2 linked regions of the Homo sapiens genome follow. The protein of the gene in region 1 interacts with the protein of each later gene in a biochemical or structural test. Each region holds a gene or a part of one and is shown on either strand. Other genes may lie near its edges.

Region 1 (8,555 bases):
TTTTTCTACAAATGAGAAGATACATGCATATTTTCTTATTTCTCTTTCTTTTTTACATGAAAGGTTAGCATACTATATTTTTCATGGTAGTATTTTTTAAAAGCATGGTAGAATTCTGTCCTTTAAAATTTGATAGAAGTCATCTATGTAACTACCAAGACATGGAGACTTTCAAGAGAGATGTTCTTTGATAATTTATACAATTCCATGGTTATTGGTCTATTCAGAGTGTATCTCTTCTTAAGTCAATTTTTGGTAATTCATGTCTTACCAGGAAAGTTAAGATATTGAGTAGAAGATGCAAATCTTTCTTTAGTTCAGAGAAAATTTCTTCTGCCATATATTTTATTTTCTCCTCTCTCTCCTTGTGGAATTACTGTTATACACATATTAGACCTCTATAGTCTAGCTATCACAGATCATCTTTTCTCTTCTGAATTCCAGGATAAATTTTCAAGCTTGAGTTCTGGGTCACACATTCAGCTTTCTTCGGTTCCCAATCTTCTGTTCATTGTTTCCATTGAGGTTTAAATTTAGCAAGCTAAAAATGTTTCCTAATTTCAGTTTGTAATTTCTTAATGATTCCTTGTAATTTCAGTTTGTAATTACATAATCCACTACACTTGCAAATACAATATCCTCCCAAATATTATTAAAAACATAAAAGAGAAAGATGTTTAATTTTTTTTCCTCTTCTTCTTGTGGAAATTTCATTTCAAAGGAAACTAATTTTCTCTGACCATGTTCCGTTCTGTTGAAAGTCTGAATCTTTTTGTGTTTTCATATCATTACTTTTTCTCTCTCTGTTTATTTTTACCAGGAGGGAGTCTATATTTATTCTGGAATAGAAGTTGAGGTGGTTCTCCTGATTATCATGAATAGTCAGTAAGCATTCAGTCAAATAAATAAGTGGAGAGAGGTATTTTAAGCAGAGAGGACAGAGAGAGGAAGGGCATGAAGATATAAAAGCCCAATGTCAGCCAGGCACAGTGGCTTGCACCTGTAATCCCAGCACTTTGGGAGGCCCGGGTGGGAGTATTGTTTAAGCCTAGGAGTTTGAGACCTACCTGGGCAACACAGCAAGACTCCATTTCTACCAAATTAATAATAATAATAATAATAATAATAATAATAATAATAATAATAATTAGCTAGGCATGCCTGAGGCAGGAGGATGGCTTGAGCCCAGGAATTTGAGGCTGCAGGGAGCATTGATCATGCCACTGCACTGGGTGACAGGAAGACCAATGTGGATTTTCTTTTCTCACATATTTTATGTACTGGGATATAATTTACAAAGAGCAGAATATGTAACTTTTAAGTGAAGATCTCACTAACTTGTGCATATGCAGAAACCATTTAACCACCATCAAGATAAAAACACCACCCCAGAAAGTTCACTCATGTCCACTTTCTGGCTAAATTGTTCCCTTCCCCCAAGATAACCATCATTCTGACTCCTATCACTATAAGTTAGTTTGCTGGTTCTTGAACTTCATATAAATGGAATCATGCACTATATTTTCTTTTGTGTCTGGCTTCTTTTGCTCAGCATCATTTTTGTGAGATTCACCTATGTGGACAAATGCATCAGTCATTTATTCCTTTTTACTGCTGAGTAGCATTCCAGTGTACGAATATCCCACAATTTAACAAAAAATGCATTCTACTATTAATGATATTTAGGGTGTTTCCAGTTTGGGGCTATTATAAATAAAGTTGCTACAGTCATTCATATATATGTTTCTGTGGGGATATATACATTCATTTATCTTGGATATATACCTAGGAGTGGAATTTCTAGGTCACAAGTAGATGTATATTTAACTTTATTAGATACTGCCAATCAGTTTCCCAAACTTGTTGTGCCGTGTTACACTCCTACAAGCAATATATGAGTGTTTCAGTTGCTCCACATCCTTGCCAACATTTGGTGTTTTCAGTATGAATTTTAGCTATTCTAATGACTGTAAAGTGGTAACTCATGGTTTAAGTTTGCATTTCCCCAAAGACTCATCATGTTAGCACCTTTTCGTGTGTTTATTGGCCATGCGCATATCTTTTTTTTGTTGAAGTGTCTGTTCAAGTCTTTTGCCCATTTTTAAATTGGATTCTTTGTCTTTACTACTTTTGAGTTGTGGGAGTTCTTTATATATTCTGGCTATAAGTTACTAGAAATCTTACTATCCACTGGTGGATAGTAATGATGTCAACTGAGATAGGGAAGGCAGGAGAAGGAGTTTGGGAGAAGATGAGGAATTTATTTTAGGTCATGGAGTAATTAAAAGGCTTTTGGATTGATTATCTAGGTATGGGTGTACAGAAAACACTTGGAATTACAGATCTGGAGCTCAAGAGAGAAGTCTGGGCGATAGTTTGGGAGGGATCAGTATGATGGGAATGGATGAGATTGCCCAGGGAGAAGAGAAGCAGCCTTATCTGAAATCTCAAGCATTGTAATGTTTAAGAGATGATGAAGAAATGAAGCCAGAAGAAGAAAACAGAAATCATGGTGAGAGGTGGAGGAGAAGCCAAGGAGGGGATTTTCAAGAAGGAGTGGTGCCAAATGCTGTAGTGAGGTAAGAAAATGAAACCATTGGAGTTGACATTTGGGGTTTCCCTGGTGGTCTCTGTTCAGAGAATTGAGGAATAAATGTAAGATGAGGAAGTGGAGGCAGGGGTAGACTCCTCTTTGAAAACATTAGGCAGTGAAAGGAAGGAGAGTGATTTCAAAGAGCCATAGATTTTAAAACAAAGCAACAAAGGAGTTGTAGAAAGAGGTACATAATCAGATGCTTAATGAGTGACAGAGGTACCTTTCAGAGTTTTTCCAGCAGCTTTGGGGAGGTGGGAAATGGAGAATGGATAGGTGTCAGGTGCTGATCAGATCTGTGACAGGGAGACGCAGACAGAACTCAGTGTTGACGGCGTGGCATAACATGCAGGCTCCACATCTGGGCCACAGCTGTAGGTGGAGAGGAGAATGCCTACTTCTGAGGGGATGTACGATGGGACCAAGTTGGCTTCTTGGGATGCTCAGAGCCCTAGGAGTGAGCACCAATGAGCCACTCTTTTGCAGTTTTCCTCCATTTTCAGAAGGCAGGCATCCCATAATTTCTCTGGCAGATTATTTGCCTTTCCAAGTGCTCTCCTAATCCAACATTTCCATCTGGCACACAGTGTCATTCTTGCTCCTGAATTCCTGATTCCAGAGCATTTCTGCCATTTTCTTCCTTTGCACAGTGTGTACCTTCCCTCTTCTCCTCTTCTTCCAAATGTCCATATTTTTGTGGTGGAAAAAGTGGGGACAGGGGAGACAGAAGACTGGAATCCTTATCAAGTCCTCTCTCAGCCCTTGGTGGCTCTGGTTCCTTCTCTGTGAAAGGGTGACGTGTGGGGAAGGGGTTGGGGATGAGGTAGGAGAGGGGGTCTGAGTTCCTTCCCACGTCTAACGATGGCTGGAACCAGGCCTCTGTGTTCAACCAAGGGTACTTTCTGTTTCTGTCCATTTGGGGAAGTTGCTTTTTCTTGGTATTTCGGGAGTCAGGAAAAGAAAAGTCATTGGTGTTCATATCTCTCAAAGCCTCAGGTAGGGCTGCGGCTTTTGACCAACAATAACGTATGACCATGACCTTGTGGCCGAGTTTGCACGCCTCTAACAGATATTATGACACAGTTCCATTCAATAGTGGAAGTGGAGATTTCAGCGTTGCCCTTTGTTAACCCACAAATGAAGTGCTACTCTTCCATTGTGAGGGCTGTCGGAGCAGTAGCCAACCTTCTTATCCCCATTTTTTAAACGAGGGAAAGGAGGCATAGGAAGCGCAGTGTCTTGTGGGATTCCCTGGGGAGTCCTTCCAACTCTTGGTAGAGCATCATCTGCAACGTCGTCTGGGGGAGAAAAGGGGGAGGCAAGAAGAGGGCCTTGACCCTGGAGGCAGGAACTCCCGCACACCCTCACTCCCTTCCCCAGGGGCTGGGGAAACCACTCAGGTGACAGTAGCCTTGGTGCCGGCCAGGGAGGGCGGGAAGTCCAGCCAGAGGCTGGAACAGCAGTGCTGAACGCCGGGACTGGCTGGTATTTCTATGAAGGTTCCTGCAGAAGGATGCGGGTCAAGGTGCCCGTCTGCACAGCAGTAGTGCAGGCATTTTAAGGGTTAAGGGCACCCAAAGAAAATAGAAGTAGGGGCCGGGCGCAGTGGCTCACGCCTGTAATCCCAGCACTTTGGGAAGCCGAGGCGGGCGGATCACGAGGTCAAGAGATCGAGACCATCCTGGCCAACATGGTGAAACCCCGTCTCTAGTAAAAATACAAAAAATTGGGCGTGGTGGCGCGCGCCTGTAGTCCCAGCTACCCGGGAGGCTGAGGCAGGAGAATCGCTTGAACCCGGGAGGCGGAGGTTGTGGGGAGTCAAGATCGTGCCACTGCACTCCAGCCTGGCGACAGAGCGAGACTCCATCTCAAAAAAAAAAAAAAAAAAAAGAAAGAAAATAGAAGTAGGAAGAGGAAGTGGGTCGCAGTGAGAGAAGGAAGCAGCTCGTCGGAGCTTCCTCTTTCTCGTCTTTCCCCTAAGCCCCTACCCCAGACCTGCCCCCCTGCTCCGCCCAGCCCTCCTGCGGGGCCAAAGCCGCGCTTCCGACGCGGGGGCCTAACCTCCCCTTACTCCTTGGGGGTCGCTGGTGCTCCGCGCTGGTGCCCCTCGGGCCACTGCCATGGACCGGCCAGGGTCTGCTTCTTCCGAGGGCTGGCGGGTCAGAGCCGGGGCTGCTTCTCAGACGCCTTGCGGCCTCGGGGGCGTGACCCAGAGGATGTGGGGCCGGGCGCGCACCTGGCTGACGCTGCCGGGCCGCCAGGTGGCTGGAGAGGCCGGCTCCGCGGTCAGCCCCGCCCCATTAGGCCCCGCCCCCTGACAGGCTCCGCCCCGCCCGCCGGAGGAGCCCAGGCTGGGCAGATGCTGCGGCTCGCCGCGCGGCTCCAGCTGGGGCGCGGTGGTCCCGACGGTCACCCGAATCGCAGGGAGTCGCCGCTGGAGAGGGGCTCGGCGCCCGGCGGGGACTGCAGGTGTGTGACTGGGCGGCCAGGGCGGATGCGGAGGGCACGCATGGGAGCTCCAGGCAGAGCTGGAGCAAGCTGGGGACCGTCGGGGAGAGTGGGCTCCGCGAGCAGCCGCCGCAGCCCGAGGGCTGGACAGATCCTGCTATCTTCCGGCCCCGTGGACCTGGCCCACCGCGGGGGCAGCGGGTCTGCAAACCTGCGCTCCAGATAACCCCAGAGACTTAAGGGGCGTCGCGGGGACCACTTATCGTTATCCGGGTAACCTCTGCTGGGCGGCTCTGCGCAGCTGTGTCCTCAGCCTCCTGCCTCTGACACAGGACGCCCTGTGTCGTAGGGTCAGGTCCCCTGCCCGCTCCAGCGGGGAACTGTCCGTGAGCGTGGGCATCAGGGCTCTTGTGCCGTCAGAACCTGGGAGTCATGGAAGTGCCCGCGTAAGGCGCCCTCCGTCGAGCCTCACTCAGCCTGCTAGTTAGCCAGCCTTGGGCCCAGACGCGGCTGCTGTCCTAGAGAACTGCACGCTTTCTGCTCTCAGAGGATCTGTGTTTACACACTGGACATCCCCGCGTGACTCGTGTGTGTGTGTGTGTGTGTGTGTGTGTGGGCATGCGCATGTGCGCGTGCTGGCCCATCCCGGCCTGGGGTAAATACACAAAAAGTTCAGGTCAGTAGGAGGAAGGAGATTGTTCAGAAGGAAAAGGAAGGCGAGGTTAAAGCAGCAGGATGTGGTATAAAGCGAGTTAACAAGACTCGGAGTAGAGAGGAGGGGTGGGTTTAGGCAGAATAAGGGCTAAAAGTAGGCCAAGCCTGCCTCCAAGGTCCTCTCTGGACTGACACCCTCGTTTTCCTTCTGTGTCTTCTCATCCACCCCACACTTTCCTTCCTGCCCTCAGGACCACCTGTAAGGCACTGGCTCCCAGAGCTGACTGCAGGTAGGGCTCTCTTGGAGCCAACCCTACAACGTGGCTTTCCAGGGATGGGATCTGGAATCTGTAGTTTTCAAAACTTTGAATGAGCTCCTTAAGTGATGATGCTGAAGCCGTTGCTTGGGAACCATGCATGATGTGGAAAAGAGACCCAAGTTCCAACCGGATCCAGCTGTGTGACCTGCAGCATCACACTGTCCCCCAACCCAGCCTCAGTCTCCTGATTCATAAAATGGGCTGTCATACTGACCCATAGAGCTGTGTGGAATTATTATTATTATTATTATTGAGACAGGGTCTTGCTCTGTCACTCAGGCTGGAGTGCAGTGGCGTGATCATGGCTCACTGCAGCCTTAAATTCCCAGGCTCAAGCAATCCTCCGCCTCCGCCTCCCAAGTAGCTGGGATTACAGGTCAGCACCACGGCGCCCAGCTAATTTTTGTATTTTTTGTAGAGGCAGGGTTTTGCCATGTTGCCCAGGTTGGTCCCAAATTCCTTGAGCTCAAGCGATCCGTCTACCTTGGCCTTCCAAAGTGCTGGGATTATAGACATGAGCCACTGTGCCTGGCCCAGTGTGGAAAATTAAGTGAGGCATGTATGATGAGAACGGCTGCACGTGGGAGATGCTCCGTGGATGTTTGTAGAACGCTGGCTTCCGTGTTTCCTCGTTGTGGCTGTGGTGGTGTGGGTCTTTGCCTGTGGACCCGTGGAAGACAAAGAAGACAGTTTTGGATGGTCAAGCTACTTTCTTGCTTCAGGGCTCCCTCCCCTGCTTTTTGAAGCCTCACAAACCAGGACTGTGAGGGCAGGAAGGCTTGGGGTCTTTGTGTGCTGAGCCTCATTAGGGTTTTAAGAACCTCCCTCCTTTCATCTCTAGCTTACGAGAGGGATGATTCATTATCTTCCCTCCTCAGGCTGCAGTAGAAGCAGACAGTCTCTGCCTCCCTGCTTGCCTTTCCTCCCTCCCATTCACTGTTGATTATTGCCCTCAAGAATAACAGGTTGCCCAGCTACTCGAGAAGCTTAAGTGGGAGGATTGCTTGACCCCAGGAGTTCGAGGCTGCAGTGAGCTATGATCGCTTCACTGCGCTATAGCCTGGCAGACACAGAGAGACCCTATCTCAAGCAAACAGACAAACAAAAAAAAAAAAAGAAGAAGAAGAAGAAGAATAGGTTGGATGCTAACTGGTGGCACTGGGTGACAAGAGCATTTGGGGTTGATGTTGGCATGAGGATGAGAAGGCAGGGGTGCAGGCTGCTCCATACCCCTGTGTTAGCCATCCATCAGGGGCCTGCTGGCTGAGGAGTGGGAGAGGAGGAGAGCCAGGATCCTTTTTGCCTGGGTAGCCTAGAGTTTGGAAGCCCCAGCTTGGGTTCCACTGAGCACTCAAGCTGTGCTGACTTGGCCTTTCTTCAAAGATGCTCATCCCAAGGGACTGAGCTGCGTGGCCCTGTGGGACCTCTGAGAACCAGAATGCCTGTTTGGCCTCAGCTGGTGAGCTAAAAGCCTGAACCAATGTGTTAAGAAAGAAAGCTGGCCAGGCATAGTGGTTCATGCCTATAATCCCAGCACTTTGGGAAGCCAAGGCTTTGAGGCCAGGAGTTCGAGGCTGCAGTGAGCTATGATCGTGTCACTGCATTCCAGCCTGGGCAACAGAGTGAGACCCTGTCTTTACAAAAACAAAAAATAAAATTTAAAAAACAGAGAAAGCTCCTGGAAGAAGAAGATAGAGTGATCCTTAACAAGTCAAGGGAGAGGTGTTTAATTTGATTTTTGAGCCTCAGATATAGATGGGGTGGGAGGAGAGAAAGGAAAGAGTACATCTGACTTCTGCCCAAAGGGAAGATGATACCCTCCCGTAGCAAACATATATTACATAGTAAAATATTTCATCAATTTGAAGATGTACATATTTTCACATTTTAGCACTGAATGTGCTAATTGTATGAATTTCACTGAAATCAAGGTGCATTTTACTGTTTATGGCATCTTCCAATTATAATAGGCAACAATATTTCTTCCTTATTGCCACACAAAATAACGGTGCATCTTACAATTGATGGCATCTTAGATTCTATTAAATACAGTGCACTTTTTATAGATTTGGGGGATGTGTTAGCGATACACAGGTCCACACAGAATTATGTTGTTCTCATAGCTTTCATACATTAATTTTTCCAGTAGCTCTACCTTCTAAGTATCAGAACTTTTCATTGTATTATGTTTTAAAAGAAATCTTTGTAAAGTATGTTGCTTGCATTTATAAATGTAGCATGTTGGATATGATTGAATAATTTCTTGAAATTTTCATCAAATGGTTCTGGCCTGCCATTCTCTTTTGTACCCTGTGTCTTTTTGTACATTCATGCTTCGTTCTCTTTCATCTTTCTCCCTGTCCTTTTCTCCTTTGGCTATGACTTCATGGTGTTGGGCACTGTGCTGAGTATGTCATGTCCTTTAATCTTCACAGTCACACTCTGAGGTAGCTACAATTATTGCCCCCATTTCACATATGAGAAAACCGAGGGCCAAGGCCACACATTTAGGTGGTGCCAGAGCTGGGCTGACTCTGGCG
Region 2 (8,380 bases), on another chromosome or scaffold:
TACCACGTTGGCCAGGCTGGTCTCAAGCTCCTGGTCTCAAGTGATCCGCCCGCCTCTACCTCCCAAAGTGCTGGGATTACAGGCTTGAGCCACCACACCTAGCCAAAAAAAAAAAGTTTTTAACAGTACTTGTAGATACCCTACTTAACAGGAAAGCATGTGGGCACCAGTGACCACTGTAGGATTCTTTGGAGAGACCTAAATAAGGCTGTAGTCTATGCCAGTGTAGCTTGAAGGAGATATATTAGTAATTTATGACTTCCATCAGAATTTTCAAGTACTCCTTCCAGCAGTTATGTTTAGTTTATTTTTTGAAATTACTAATACTTTTTCCCAATATTCCAATTCCATGATTCAAGGCAGATATCAAAGAATGTTAATCTGTGTCTGGAAAAATTAAAAACATAACATTTGACATATATTTAGACATCAAGATCTAGGTCTAGATCTAGTTTAATAAGTCCTACAAGTTCTCCAAAGTATATTTAAATAGCTTCAGTGATTAAATGAGTTCTCTTTTGACTGCACACTTTTGCTGCCTCTTACCCAGTTTCTTCCATTATATATTTTCCTGCTCAATTGCATGCATAATAAAGTGAATAATTCTCTGTCTTGTTAGTCAACTGTGTCTTGTTTCAGAGTCAAATTTGAAGTTTTCAGTCATGGTCAGTAGTGATGTGCATCATTGTCAGCTGTTCTTTAAATGTGAATATAAAGTATATTGAAAATTCATATAAATTAGCCCCATTTTGAAAACGAAGGAAGCAGAGACTGAGAAAAATGAGTGGCCACGTTTTCATGGCTGATGAGTGAGGTTCCAGCTCATGCCTGGGGGTCTCTGACTCTGGTTTTTGGTGCTCTCCTCTGCTCCACACTTGCTCTCTGATTTGCTTATAACCTTAAGGCAAGTTTCGTGACCTGTTGGAACCTCAGTTTCTTCATCTCGAAAGCAAGGAGGTTGGCTTTAAGAATTCTTTCTGCTCTAAAATATCATTCCAGGCTGAAACCACATTAAAGCAGTCCTAACTTGAACCTGTGCCTCTGAGGCATCTCTGTCTCTCTGTAGTGCTGTGAACGATTTAACACCCTGTGTATTTGTATTTAACTAAACTGTATAAATGAGTCACTTAAACTTAAAACAATTATAAAAAATGTTTTTAAGTATTAACACTTTTTCAGCAATTAATCCATTTTATATGACAGCTGTATTCTAGTCATGGAACATAAATCTTATACTAGAAAAAGAGATCTGAAATTAAATATACTTGAGCACTATAAGAATTCACCTTGGGCCAGGTGCAGTGCCTCATGTCTGTAATCCTAGCACTTTGGGAGGCCGAGGCAGGCAGATCACGAGGTCAGGAATTCGAGACCAGCCTGGCCAACATGGTGAAACCTCAATCTGTACCAAAAATATAAAAAAGTAGCTGGGCGTGGTGGCACGCCTGTAATCCTAGCTACTTGGAAGGCTCAGGCAGGAGAATCGCTTGAACCCGGGAGACGGAGGTTGCAGTGAGCCGAGATGGCACCACTGCACTCCAGCTTGGGCGACACAGAGACTCTGTCTCCAAAAAAAAAATAAAAGGCATCTTGATGATGCTGAAATAATTAATACATTGCTGTCCTCAAATTTTTCTGTGGTCCATAACAGTGCCCAAAAATTGAAATGCTTACAAGCTGGTCAAGGAGTTGTCATGATATATAATCCCCACAGAAGCGCACCTGTAGTCCCAGCTACTTGGGAGACTGAGGCAGGATAATCGCTTGAACCAGGAGGTGGAGGTTACAGTGAGCCGAGATCGCGCCACTGTACTCCAGCCTGGCGACAGAGTGAGACTCTGTCTCAAAAAAATAAATAAAATAGAGTAATTAATAAATAAAAGTGTTGCAGGTTAGCCTAATTCATTAAGCATTCAGTATGCTCCCAAAACTCCTCCAGGTCCTGAAAACACAAATGCTTCCTCTAAGTCCCTCTGGCTGCTGTAATAGGTAAATGGATAGCGGCAGTCAGGTGTGATGAATAGAATCACAAAATATGCTCAAAATGCCTAGGAAGACTCTACCTGCGGCTGCAGGGAGTACTTCCAAAGAGAGGATGACTTAGTTGCCAATGACTGAAATGTACTGAGTACATACTAGGTTCTTTACATAAATCTTTAATTCCCTTATCACCTTAGAAGGTAGGTCATTCTGGTCTCATTCTTCCACAAGGAGATTTCAGCCCCTAAGGCTACCTAAGTGTTGGAGTCAGAATTCAAACCCCATGCCATCCAGCTGCAGGACACATCTGGTCTCTTGTGTAAGCTGCGTTTTAAAGGAATGTCTAGAGAAAGGAGACTCAAGGGAAGTCAGCTGAGAATGCAGGAAAAGAAGACACGGGCCCCTGAGAGCATCACACTGGCCTTTGGCTTGGCACATGAATGAAAGTAGAAGCAATGCGACTGGAACTTCGTAGAAATAAGATTCCTTTTCCCATTGTAGATATTTTGCTTCCTTTTCTTCTGTTTACTAAAAGAAAAATTCTAAAACCCAAATTAATCTTGTCTTTTTCAGTAGCCCTTTGGATGGCTATGTTCTAGCTGTCCTCTAATTTCAGAAATGTCCTTTGGATATAGATGTGATTTCTGGAAGTAGTCAAGTTTATTTAAGTTTTTGAGTCTTAAGTGACCTCCCCCCCACCCCCTCCCCATAGCCAAATTTATTGATTACACTTTGGGTCTCTACTAAAGAGACTTGTTTTCCGCTGTCATGAACTGCTTCTGAAGGCAATTCCAAAAGAAACAAGCACATATGCTGATGAGCAGGACAGCCCCTTTGGGACAGTTGTGGCCTCTGGAGAGAGCCTGTTGAAAGGCAACTTTAATTTGGATGTAGAAATGCCAGCATGTGGCTATTGCCCCCTGTGGCCAACTCAGATTGGCGTGCTCACTACTCACTGCCCCAGGGAACTAGGGGGGCGTTTTTTCAGGTCTGCCCTTCACTCTGGGGTGACCGAATGTTTCAGACACAGTCAAGCAAATAGAGTGCCCGTAAACATCACACCTTCTGGAGTCAAACTGTTCTGTTTACCAGATCAAGCTTAATTAAATGCCTAATTGGCCATTGAACAATCTGATTACATTAGGTTTCATTTACCACAGTTTCCAGTTCTAGTGCACCCGAAAGACAGGACAAGGTTAAAACTGGTAAGTAAATGTAGACGAGAGTTGTAAAATTCTTACAAGGAAAGTCTTAAGACTGATGAACATTTATATTCATGATTAGATTTCCTGGATTTGCGAAACCTGGCACGGAACAGTATTTGTTGGCCAAACAACTAGCAAAACCCAAAGAGAAAATTCCCATCATTGTAAGTTTGTTTATTTTTGTTTGCTTTCTTTCTGATTAAGCTCTTTCTTATACCGTACTTTAAAGCTAAGCGAGTTATTCATCTTTTGGAAAGTATTTTTAAATATATTTAATGCCCCACATAACTGATAATATATGTTAGTGTTGTAGGAGTACTGAAGATAATTAACACAAATTAATGCCTGTCATTATATTGTTTATTCTTTATCTTTCAGACTTTTAGTATTGAACAAATATACTATTTTGATCATTTTTTTCTAAAGTGTCTTGAAGTGTATTTTACATAGTTTTTCTGCCAGCCCTATATGTTTAACTGATGAACTCAATTCAAATATTTATGTTTCTTCCCTTGTAAAGTACATGTATGTTATCAGAATAAGGTACCCTTTCAGATATATGGGTAATAGTGTTTTTGGTAATAGTGTTTTTTCCAGTAAACCAGCTGTCAAATTGAGATAAGGAGCTACCAAATGGAAGCTGGGAGTTAAAGACATCATTGAGAATATCTGTCTTAGAATTACTTGGTTATTGCATAATGTGACACAAGCCCTTCGGTTTCATTCCACATTTTGATTGGTGGTAGATTTTCTGTCTAGGTGATATTTAGTTGTAGATTCCCAAATGAAATTCTGGAAAAGAGAACTGTAGCTATCTTCTGATCCTATTGACTTAACCCTGTAACAATTAGATTGGGAACCTGAAGCCTTGAGTGTTCTCATCCTGGACTCAATCGAGGATGAGGAAACATCTGGTCTTATTCTGTAGTCTTTGGAAACTTGATAAAATTGCAGGAATAGTATTAGATTCTCTAATTACTTGTGCCTGCATGTTTGAAAAACTCCAAATCCTGGAAGCCTCCAAGCTGAAGAGCTGTAACCAAGAGCCCTTTTTATGCTTTTTCCCTCAAAGCAAATTTGGGATAATTAACTTCTGAGTAGTTATATTAAAGATTTTTTTTTCCTGTTTTCTCTGGACTTAATAAAAATTGAACATGTACCATTATTCTTTTCATGACATTTAAAACTCCTCAAAATCAAGAGCGCACAGCTCTGCCTCAGTTTTGTTTTTTTGTTTGTTTGTTTGTTTTTAAGACAGAGTCTCACTCTGTCACCCAGGCTGGAGTGCAGTGGTGTGATCTTGGCTCACTGCAACCTCTGCCTCCCGGGTTCAAGCAATTCTCCTGCCTCAGCCTCCCGAGTAGCTGGGATTACAGGCATGCACCACCACGCCTAGCTAATTTTTTTTGTATTTTATAGTAGAGACGGGGTTTCACCATATTGGCCAGGCTGGTCTTGAACTCCTGACCTTGTGATCCGCCCACATTGGCCTCCCAAAGTGCTGGGATTACAGGTATGAGCCACTGCGCCCGGCCTGCCTCACATTCTTAAAGGGGACTTTGTCCCAGGTTTGCAGTGGTGGTACAGAGCTAAGGGTTCCAGCCTTTCATTGACCGGCAAGTTTTAAGTAGAACTGCACCCATGCACCCAGTAGGCAGGTCTGCCTGTGTGGGCGTCTATACATGGAAGAAGCTGAGGAAAGCCACCGCGTCTTCAGGAGGCCCAGAGAAAGCAGAGACTAACTCTTTGCTCTAAAAGTGCAGTAACCTTGCCCACTCATGAAACAGAGCCCCGTGAAATTGGGCCTTAGCCAAGCACAGTTGCTGCTCTCGGCCCACTCACTGAGGGAGGTCCCGAAAGTCATCTCCTCTGCAGCTTTCAGCTAGTTTCTTGGATCTGGGCTCTCCCTGAGGGGGTTATAGTAATTGTTCTCAGAGATTTTAGTCTCTTTTTAAACTACTCTTATCCTTGGAGTAGGTCACCTTCCTGACCTAACAGCCTCTGAACTTTAATATCCCAATCCGCTTTTCCCATCTTCCTCTTAAAAAAAAAAATTAGGACTGGGTATACCTTTTTTTCCTTTTTATGTCTGTCTGGCCTTGCCTCTCTGAGGTCTCAGCCGAAACAAATCTCTCTTCCTTCAGCGCAATCTGTGTGATTTTTCTCATTTTCTTTTTACTTTCTTATGGTACTTTTTCAAGTCTGCAAGAATAAAACCTGTTCCATAAATTATTTCATTCTCCTTGAATCTCTGAATGAATCTCTGAGTGAATCTGCTTCCTGAATAGTGGTCCTTTTACAGTCCATGTGTTTGTTTTTTCATTCTCTTCTTGGATTATAACTCAATTATTTTTCATTTTCAAGCCAAGAAGATAGATAACATTCTCAGTATAATAAGGACTTCTATTGCTCTGAAATGTGTTTTGATAAGAGCTACTGTCCTGCAGTCTGAACCTCTAGAATCTGTCATTGTGATCAAAGTTTATGAAATGAATGAGGCAGAACCAACTTGAGACTATTGGTGACTCAGGTAGTGATTCCAGAAGCCTGTACATGAGCTCCAGCATCCAGGTTCCTCTGCAGCTGCCCCCATGGCCTTGGATGCTGTTTTAAATAAGATGAAAAAACCAGGTTTGGGACAGCAGACCTATTGTCACCTAGCAGTGCCTAGAAGAAATGATCCTCAGGCTCAAAACTTACACGAGGTCTCTACACCCCCACATAGAATTTAGCTGGTTTCCCTTCCTCACCTCCCACCACAACTAAAACCCCAGTGAGCTAGTGTAAGCCTCGCCTGAATTTGTGAACTTTTGCCCTAGTCACAGATAGAAGAGAAGGCCAGTGAGAAAAGAATGGAGGCCTACCCTCTTCAGGCAAGCCTTGCCCAGGTGGACGTGATACCCGGGGGTTGGAAGTGAGCCAGCCCACTGTGCTTAGGCACATAGCAGTCCACGGAAGAAAACAGCTAGCCTGGTTCTTGCTTTTAAGATGTAGTACCTCCCCCTCCCCCCACCTTGCCACTAGTAGTAAAACAATGACTATCAGGCTCTGGCCAATCTGATTAATCGTTTCTATGAGCCAGAACAATGCTACTCAAAGTATGGTCCACAGACCACTTGCCCATCTGAAAACTGCTTGTTCCTGATCCACCGTGAGATAGGTACAGTACATGAGAATATTTTGAAAACTTGAGGACAATTTGGTATTGTTGAAAAATCAAAATGTGTAATGTTATATTTCACCAAACTATTAGTCTGTGATAGATTCGAAATTTTTAAAAACTAGTCCTTCATCACGTGTAGCTTGAGACAGCTAGACTAGAAAGAAACATTGTCTTGTAACCAGCACTGTCCTTGGGAGAGGGAAGCTGGTGTCTCCTCTCCATGGGCTGAGCTACTCACGTGGGAGCAGAAGGGTTTCCCACAGGTGTGTTCTTTAAACATAATATCTAACAGGAACAGAAACCATTGAACCATTTATGTACCTTTCAAAGAGGAACAAGAATGACCCTCCAAAGGACTTCTCATTCTGAAAAGAATTACTTGCTGATTCACATCAATTGTATTTATTATTTTTCCATGTAACAAAATTACTTCTTTCTGGAACATTGGCATAGGTTGGAGATTATGGCCCAATGTGGGTTTATCCTACCTCTACTTTTGACTGTGTGGTAGCAGATCCCAGGAAAGGCTCCAAAATGTATGGTCTAAAGAGCTACATCGAATATCAGCTAACACCTACTGTAAGTATCCACGTTATCAAAAGCAGAATCATGTTTGGATCACTGATTGCAGCTTGCTTTTTTCTTCATTTTCTAGAGTTGGCATTGGTAACCTTTTCTCTTTCCCTTATTTTGTAGAACACTAATCGATCTGTAAACCACAGGTATAAGCACTTTGACTGGTTATATGAGCGTCTCCTGGTTAAGTTTGGGTCAGCCATTCCAATCCCTTCTCTTCCAGACAAACAAGTCACAGGTGAGTGTGTGTAATGCTAAACCCAGGATGACAAATAGAAAGACTCCAGTCAGATTATCTTCCTGTAAGTCAGTGATGGCATTTTCCATCCTGTAGAGCAGCAGGATGCAGGAGTTGGAAACAGTAATTAAATACAGCTATGAAGAGAGAACCATTGCATGTTGTACATCTATCTGGAAGTTGCCTAAACGTCTCACAAGAACGTTTAATGTGCAAATCACAGGTTTTGGTATGTGTCTGGAATTCCAGCAGTCATTGTCTTCATTGCTGTACCTTTTCTACAAAAGAAATGTGTACATTTAAAATATGTGAAAAATGACACCTGAAAAAATAGAAATAATTCAAATAGCCTAAAATGGAAATAAAAATGTATGACCCACATGATGCAAACAGGTTATGCAGATGAGCTGCATTATTTCATTAGATGAGTGAGCACTGGACAGAGAAGCCACAGAACTACTAAGTGTTAATGAAGGAAGAAGCTGCCAGGTTTTCTACTTATTTTGATTATTACCCTCTCCCTTTTCTTGTTTTTTAAAAGTGCCATTTTCTATTTATTTTGATTATTACCCTCTCCCTTCTCTTGTTTTTTAAGTGCCACATTCCCTCCCCTCCCCCAGCCCCAAGAATCTTTTGGTAAGTAACCCATAGTGTTACTAGAGCACCTTGTAAGTATGCAGGGCACCTTGTAAGTATGCAGGTAGAAAGGGTTTGTTTTTGTGTCAGGGAATTGTTTTTGTTTTTAATCTCCAGCCTAGGGTAGACTCTGCTACTCTATGTAGTCACTGAGGGACTCAGCATGTGTGTGTTAAAATAAAGGTTGTGTGCCAGGTGCAGTGGCATCCCAGCACTTTGGGAGGCCGAGGCGGGCGGATCACGAGGTCAGGAGATCGAGACCATCCAGGCTAACACGGTGTAACCCTGTCTCTACTAAAAAATTAGCCCGGTGTGGTGGTGTGCACCTGTAGTCTCAGCTCCTAGGGAGGCTGAGGCAGGAGAATGGCATGAACCCGGGAGGCAGAGGTTGCGGTGAGCCGAGATTGCGCCACCGCACTCCAGCCCAGGCGACAGAGCGAGACTCTGTCTCAAATAAATAAATAAATAAATAAATAAATAAATGTTGTGAAGAAACAGACTTAAAGGTTAGACAGAGTTTTAGTATATTGCTAGAAAATGTTCACATACATGAACTAGTGAAAATAGAAAGGAGTGGATTGT

Evidence for each region.
Region 2: the proteins of PIK3R5 (region 1) and SNX9 form a complex in vitro, tested with the Homo sapiens proteins (one study listed by BioGRID).

Annotation. Positions count from the first base shown.
Region 1 is NC_000017.11:8,962,103-8,970,657, reverse strand, and holds the start of PIK3R5 (phosphoinositide 3-kinase regulatory subunit 5), read left to right. Parts: upstream 1-4,950; 5' UTR 4,951-5,062; intron 5,063-8,555. UniProt on the Homo sapiens protein: Regulatory subunit of the PI3K gamma complex. Required for recruitment of the catalytic subunit to the plasma membrane via interaction with beta-gamma G protein dimers. Required for G protein-mediated activation of PIK3CG.
Region 2 is NC_000006.12:157,902,864-157,911,243, forward strand, and holds part of SNX9 (sorting nexin-9), read left to right. Parts: intron 1-3,264; coding exon 3,265-3,349; intron 3,350-6,801; coding exon 6,802-6,927; intron 6,928-7,044; coding exon 7,045-7,162; intron 7,163-8,380. UniProt on the Homo sapiens protein: Involved in endocytosis and intracellular vesicle trafficking, both during interphase and at the end of mitosis. Required for efficient progress through mitosis and cytokinesis. Required for normal formation of the cleavage furrow at the end of mitosis.